Linked DNA regions of Homo sapiens. The protein of the gene in region 2 purifies or fractionates together with the protein of the main gene of each other region. This does not show direct contact. Each region holds a gene or a part of one and is shown on either strand. Other genes may lie near its edges. The genes, in order: OCLN and MPZL2.

What was found.
Region 1: the proteins of MPZL2 (region 2) and OCLN purify together in Homo sapiens (affinity purification with mass spectrometry, with the first as the bait; one large-scale study listed by BioGRID). This does not show direct contact.

What each region holds. Positions count from the first base shown.
Region 1 is NC_000005.10:69,499,010-69,502,832, reverse strand, and holds part of OCLN (occludin), read right to left. Parts: intron 1-3,823. UniProt on the Homo sapiens protein: May play a role in the formation and regulation of the tight junction (TJ) paracellular permeability barrier.
Region 2 is NC_000011.10:118,254,148-118,257,970, forward strand, and holds part of MPZL2 (myelin protein zero-like protein 2 precursor), read right to left. Parts: intron 3,167-3,823; coding exon 3,103-3,166; 3' UTR 3,091-3,102; exon of another isoform or gene 2,764-3,090; intron 1,087-2,763; 3' UTR 1-1,086. UniProt on the Homo sapiens protein: Mediates homophilic cell-cell adhesion.

The DNA.
Region 1 (3,823 bases), on a different chromosome or scaffold from region 2:
GCCTACGTCCGTAGGTGGATCCATGGGCACTGAGAGCTCTCCAGGAAAAAGACAAGTCTCAGCAAGATGTGGTAAACACACAACCCCCTAACCTATAAAGCTTGAGGATTATTCTAGAAAACCCAGTGCTGGAGACACTGGCAAGGTACTTCCCACATCAGCTACAGAACTTCATGCCACTCCTTAGCTATGTTGAACCAACAATAAATTCTTTCCAGGTTATACCAGTGATTAGTAGAGTAGGGAACTTTGAGATCTACTGGAAGGTAAATTCCATGTGAGCAGGAATTTTTGCATGTTTTGTTCACTGATTAAATCAATGCCTGGCACATAGTAGACGTCCAGATAATTTGTTGAATGTTTACAGGAACCAGATTGGACCATGGATATCTCTGCCTGCAAAACCTCTTGTGCTTTCAAGTTGAAGGTAACGGAAAAGTATCAGAGTAACTTTAAAAGGTATGATCCCTGAATGACACTTGAGTAACATCTATAATGAGTACATTAAAGTATCTGATTTTTTTTCCTTTTCTAATACGGTCTGTACAATCATACATTAATATATTAACAACAGTACATCAATTCAGACTCTTAAAACTTTTTTTTAAATTAATGGCAACTCTTTTTTTTTTTTTTGAGCCGAGTCTCGCTCTGTCACCAGGATGGAATGCAATGGCATGATCTCAGCTCACTGCAATCTCCGCCTCCCGGCTTCAAGCGATTCTCCTGCCTCAGCCTCCCGAGTAGCTGGGACTACAGGCGCACGCTGCCACGCCCGGCTAATTGTTTGTATTTTTAGTAAAGATGGGGTTTCACCATGTTGCACAGTCTGGTGTCAAACTCCTGAGCTCAGGCAATCTGCCCTCCTTGGCCTCCCAAAGTGCTGGGATTACAGGCATGAGCCACCACGCCCCACCTGGCAACTCTCTTCTATACCCTTTAGGACAGTGTATTTCAAATCTCTCAGAATTAAACCCTGCCCAACTATGTATTAGATAAATCCTCAAAGATGGAAATATATAGAATGTTAATAACACCAACACAATTAGCATAATTTTCCAAAGACATGAAGGAAGATGACTTTTCTACATTTTTAAAAGCCACTTTTAAAGTATACCATAGAGAAAAGTGCACAAATCATAAGTGTACACAGCCCTGTAACTAGCACTCAAGTCAATTTCTCTATACTTTTTTTTTTTTTCTTTTGAGACAAGGTCTCATTCTGTTGCCCAGGATGAAATGCAGTGCCATCATCTCAGCTCACTACAACCTGCCTCCCAGGCTCAAGCAATCCTCCTGCCTCAGCCTCACAAGTAGCTGGACTACAGGCACATGCCACCACGCCTGGCTAATTTTTGTATTTTTAGTAGAGATAAGGTTTCACCATGTTGCCCAGGCTGGTCTCAAACCCCTGAGCTCAAGCTATCCACCTGCCTTGGCCTCCCAAAGTACTGGGATTACAGGCATGAGCCAATACACCTGGCCAATTTCTCTATATTCTAGTAATGGTGAAACACACATACAAATGAGCAATTTAGGCGAAAATGTTATGGTACTATAAAAAGGCAAAAGTCCAGATTGTCTTCAGAAAAAGAACATTAAGGAATACTGAATTTAGGCCAGGTGAGGTGGCTCACACCTGTAATTCCAGCACTTGGGAGGTGGAGACAGGTGGATCACCCTAGGTCAGGAGTTCGAGACCAGCCTGGCCATCATGGCAAAACCCCGTCTCTACTAAAAATACAAAAATTAGCTGGGCATGGTGGCACGTGCCTGTAATCCCAGCTACTTGAGAAACTGAGGCATGAGAATCGCTTGAGCCCGAGGTGGAGGTTGCAGTGAGCCAAGATTGTGCCACTGCACTCCAGCGTGGGTGACAGAGCAAGACTCCTTTAAAAAAAAAAAGTAAAACAGAAAATCTGAAGTTAAGCACTATTAAATGTGGGATCCTAGTTCTGAAGCTGAATGTCAAATATCCCCAAATTCTAGGTTCAGTGGTAGTTTTGGAAACTCTAAATTAATCCAGACTCAGTCTTAAGTTGTCAAAAATTCAAACAAGATCCCTTTTCAAACTGCTATTTCCAGGATTCAGAGTTGTCACGTCTCCCCAAAAGCACGGATTTTAAATTGTGAACCAAATCATGTGGCTCATGCCTGTAATCCCAGCACTTTGGGAGGCCGAGGCAGGTGGATCACATGAGGTCTGGAGTTCAAGACCAGCTGACCAATGTGGTGAAACCCTATCTCTACTAAAAATACAAAAAATTAGAGGGGCGTGGTGGTGCATGCCTGTAAACCCAGCTACTTGGGAGGCTGAGGTAGCAGAATTGCTTGAACCTGGGAGGCGGAGTTCGCAGTGAGCCAGTATTGCGCCATTGCACTCCAGCCTGGGCAAAAAGAGCAAAACTCCGTCTCAAAAAAAAAAAAAAGAAAAGAAAGCTCGTTAAGAACAAGTCATGCCACACCAACTTCATTTCCTTTTCTGGGAAGGTTACCAAACTGGTGGATTTTATTTTCTCCTTTATTATTTCCTCTTCAGGGAATGCAGAGAGAAAGAATCCTGAAAATCTTGAGCACATCCTTGTGTGGGTGGGCAGATTCCCAAGGGGCTGGATTACGGCACCCAATTAGCACAAAAGAATGAACCATTTATGTCCACCTGGTGGGAGGTCTCCACTGGTAAACACAGACAAAGTGGAGGAGACACGCTTATCCAGATTTGCAGCTGACCAAACACACTGGAAAGGATAACTAACCCATTGGCTAGGGCCATCAACACTAAGCAAGATCTCTGTAATGTCAGAATGATGAGTTTGAAACAACCTAGTGGTTTTAACAGCCCCCATTTACTGGCTCGCAATCTGAGACAAATTCCTTATCTCCTCTAAGTGCACTCAAATGCGGGAATAATCCTGACCTCTGCACTGGGATAAGAAAAAGTCTTAAAGAGCTGGGCGCAGTGGTTCACGCCTGTGATCCCAGCACTTTGGGAGGCCGAGGCGGGTGGATCACGAGGTCAAGAGATCAAGACCATCCTGGTCAACATAGTGAAACCCTGTCTCTACTAAAAAAATACAAAAATTAGCTGGGCTTGGTGGCGCGCGCCTGTAGCCCCAGCTACTCAGGAGGCTGAGGCAGGAGAATCGCTTGAATCCAGGAGGAGGAGGTTGCAGTGAGCTGAGGTCACGCCACTGCACTCCAGCCTGGCGACGGAGCGAGACTCCGGCTCAAAAAAAAAAGAAAGAAAAAAACCACAAGAAAAAGTCTTCAAGAAAATGGGCAACTGCATTCATCATAAGGTGGTTATCCTGAAAGTAAGAAATTTCAGTGCTTAGGCACTTAGGTATATTGTATCCATTTTCAAATACAGCTGACCCTCCACATCCATGGGTTTTAAATTCTGATTCAACCAACCTCAGACAGAAAATATTCAGGGGAAAAAAAAATTAAAAATTACAGGGCAGGTACAGTGGCTCACACCTGTAATCCCAACACTCTAGGAAGCTGAAGCAGGAAGATCACTTGAACCCAGGAGTCCAAGACTGACCACAGCAACATAGTAAGACCCCATCTCCACAAAAAATTTTTCTTAAAATTAGCCAGGCATGGTGGCACATCCCTGTAAGTTCCAGCTACTCAAGAGACTGAGATGGGAGGATCTCTTGAGCAGAGGAAGTTGAGGCTGGAGTGATCATGCCACTATACTCCAGCCTGAGTAACAGTAATACCCTGTCTAAAAAAATAATAAACAATAAAACAAAAAATAGATTTTTAAAACTACAATATCACAATTCTACATAGTATTTACATTGTATACGGTATT
Region 2 (3,823 bases):
TTCCATTTAAAGTAGTTTTGGTATTTCTTTGCTCCATACCAAAGTCTTCCTCCCCCAAAATAAACAAGTGAATTAGAATTAAAAAAGAAAAAAAGTTAATAATTTCTTCTAGTTCTCAGAGTTTTATATAAAACTGTACAAAATTATCATCATTTAGAGTTGATTTTTTTCACCAGCCCTGAATTTTCAAACTTGTAATATGCTGTTTCACAATTTTTTTATTAAATTACTTAATGATTCCAGTCTGCAAATGAGCATAGACTTTGCTCTGTTGTTATAGATCATTGAATTGGGGGGGAAACATAGTAAGCTAAACTATCCGTCACTGCTCATGAAAGACCCACATTGTTGATTATTTTTCCCAGCACAGAAGAAAAGTGACAAGTGATTCATCCTGCAATGGCCTCTGCCAATCTTTTCATATCTATGTAACCTTTTGTAGTTACTGTGTGATTTAGCGTTGTGCTATTGTAAATCTTGGATTAATTAACAAAACAACAAAAATCTATCACCTGGAATATTGAAAGAAATTCAGTAAAACAAGATGTGTCTCATAGTTAAGGAGAGACATAAAAATAAAAATGTCATTTAACAGTTTGAATTTAGGATTTACTGTTAATCAGAAACACCGAGGAGGCTTAGCTCACCTTTTAATTGAGAATGTGGGAAGGAAAGAGAGTAAACACATTAACTTTAGTAGCAGAAGTGCTGCTAAAAGAAATACGTGAAAGGAAATGTAACAGACAAATTGGCTTTTATCCCTTTTGATACCAATATATGTGTATACAAGTCATAACACTGTAAGTAGTGTCTTAAGGGCAAAAATGTAGCTTCTTGTTTATAAAACCTAATGAGCACTTGAAAAAATTTACACTCTGAAATTAAATAAGACCTTAATAATGAGGCTGTGTATGACTGGTGATATGGAGGAGCACTGTGCTGGCTCCAGAGGGGTGTTGCTTGTCTAGAATCTAATATGCTGCAGAACTGGTTGGAAAACGGGTCACAACTGGAAAAGCCAAAGAAAAGTTTCCATTAACTTCAAGAAATACTAGGGTTCTTGTTCTTGGAAATCATCTCAGCTTCCTAAAACACAAAACAAAAGTTTAAATGGATAATATATTTGAGAAGAGTACAATAGGAATACTTGGCATTATGAATTACATATATGTTATTAGAAGGAAAATATTCTGAGGGAAAGTATTCATATTCTCCCCCAATTTAATTTTTAAAAGAAGTTTCCTAATCCTTATTACATAATTTTCAGAGTTAGTATCCTTAAATCATGGCCTCTAAGTACCTTGCATGGACACTTGGATGACCCACAACTTGTTCACACACATACATCCCATATTCTCCCCACTTCTCACTCTCATTACAAACAAAATCAGACATATAGAAAAGTAGAGAACAGAGTATGTGGAATTTACCCATCCCTTAAATTCATTAATTCATTCTTTTCTTTTCTTTTCTCCCCTCATCTCCCCCATCACCTAATTCTGAAGCCTTTTTTGTTTTATTTGCTTTTTTCCTATGCTTTTAAAGTAAATTGCTGACATTTACCCCAATACTCCAGTAAGAATTTTTCAAAATAGGTACATTTTCTTTATAACTACAATACCATCACTATACCTAATACAAACTAACAATAATTCCCTAATATTATCCATATATTTAACATTTTCATATTCAAGACTTTCCCAATTGCCCCTCCAAGCTTGTTTTTACAACTAGCTTGTTCACACTATTATTCATCCAGTTGGGGATCACACATTGCACTTTGATTGTGTTCATCTCTTAAGTTTCTTTTGATCTAAAACATCTCCCATATTTATTTTCCATGACCCCAAGTTGTTAGATAATCCCCTTAACTTTAAAAAGACAATAGCCGTTGGTTGGTAAAAACTCCCTAATGTTAATTTTGGTTTTCTGGTTTTACAATACAATCATTTTACTCCATATTCTATTTTATAAATCCTTGAGGTCTTTCACTGGAGCTTTAGCCTATAAAAATGTGACCCTCTTTGCAACTAATAACGGTCTGTAAAAAATGTTCTCCCGTGTAACAGAGCCAGAGTTTTACAGGATAAAGTCATTAATATCAAGAACTTTCTTATGAGCGTAAAATTTAAGTTTGCATGTCCGGATTTATAACATCTAGAAATTAAATGTGTGGACCTATTTCAGAGAATGGGAGAAATTCTGAGCATATGAAAAATAAATTGGCCCGGCGCAGTGGCTTATGCCTGTAATCCCAACACTTTGGGAGGCTGAGGCAGGTGGATCGCTTGAGCTCAGGTGAGACCAGCCTAGGCAACATGGGGAAACCCCGTCTCTACAAAAAGTACAAAAATTAGCTGGGTGTAGTGGCGCGCACCTGTGGTCCCAGCTACTTGGGAGGCTGAGGTAGGAGGATCACTTGAGCTTGGGAGGGAGAAGTTGCAGTGACCCGAGATCGCACCACTACACCCTAGCCTGGGCAACAGGTTGAGACCCTGTCTCAAAAACAAAGACAAGAAAAATAAATTATCCTACTTTTTAAGCCTGATGAACCTGAAAACTGGAAAAATAAAATTATACGCTACTAAAACTGGATTCATTTCATGTAGTTATTAGTGCCAATAACTAAATGAGAGGAGTTGAAATCAATTCCAAATAGTACAAAAGCTCTCCTGTAAAAACTGCCAGATATGTCTATTGAGTCACTCTCTTAATACCATAATTGGTTTACAATTAAAAAAAAAGAATAAGCAGATACTAATCTTTTGATTTAAAAAAGATTTATTTACTTGTTGAATATTTATTAGTAGTAGTAGTAATAAATATAACCCCGAAGCCACAAATAACCTTAGGATTCTCTCAGCTTTAATGGCAGTAGAGTCCAGCTTCTTAATCTTTTGCACAAAATACACTCAAGGAGGAGCTATCCATAAGACTAATAGAAGACTTTTGTCTCCCTGACCCAGCTCCTCTAATTTCATATGGGAAACACCTAACAGCCATAAAGTGATGATCTGGGAGTCCTCATTAGAGATGGGCTGGACATGTCAGAAAGCTGAAGAAAGAAATCAACCTATTTGTGAACCTTACCATCTAAAATTGTTAGTCTGTGTCTTCTAAATAAACAGAGACCTTTTTCTCTTGGTTGAGCCTTTCCTCTTCTTTTCTGTAACAAGCAGAAACCAAATGTCAGGTGAACAAGACAAGAAGCAAGTGGGTAAATCCCACAGAAGCTTCAGGTAAGGTATTTTTCCCCCATATTTTTGGAAGAATTACATGCACTTGGGAGTAGATTGAAGTTTACACAGAGCTAAACTGGTGCCATCTAATTAATAATATTCACACCTCTGAACTTAGAGACTTTTCAGAATGTAAGGGAATACAGTTTGGGTTCTGATTCGGGAACTCCAGAGTTTTAAAGCAGACACCTTATTTTACCATTAGTATCCCACCTCTAATTTATATTTGTTATTCAAAAAAAAAATAAAAAGTTTTGTGTTGACCTAAGTCATCTTTATTGGTTCTATTCAAACTAGAACCTCAGAGTTGGGTTTGTTAGGCTTCTTAAAATTAGTTCTGTTTCGCCAGGCGCGGTGGCTCACGCTGTAATCCCAACACTTTGGAAGGCCAAGGCAGGTACATCACTTGAGATCAGGAGTTCAAGACCAGCCTGACCAACATGGTGAAACCCCATCTCTACTAAAAATACAAAATTAGCTGGGCATGGTGGTACATGCCTGTAATCCCAGCTACTTGGGAAGCTGAGGCAAGAGAATCGCTTGAACCCAGGAGGCGGAGGTTGCAGTGAGCTGAGATCATGCCA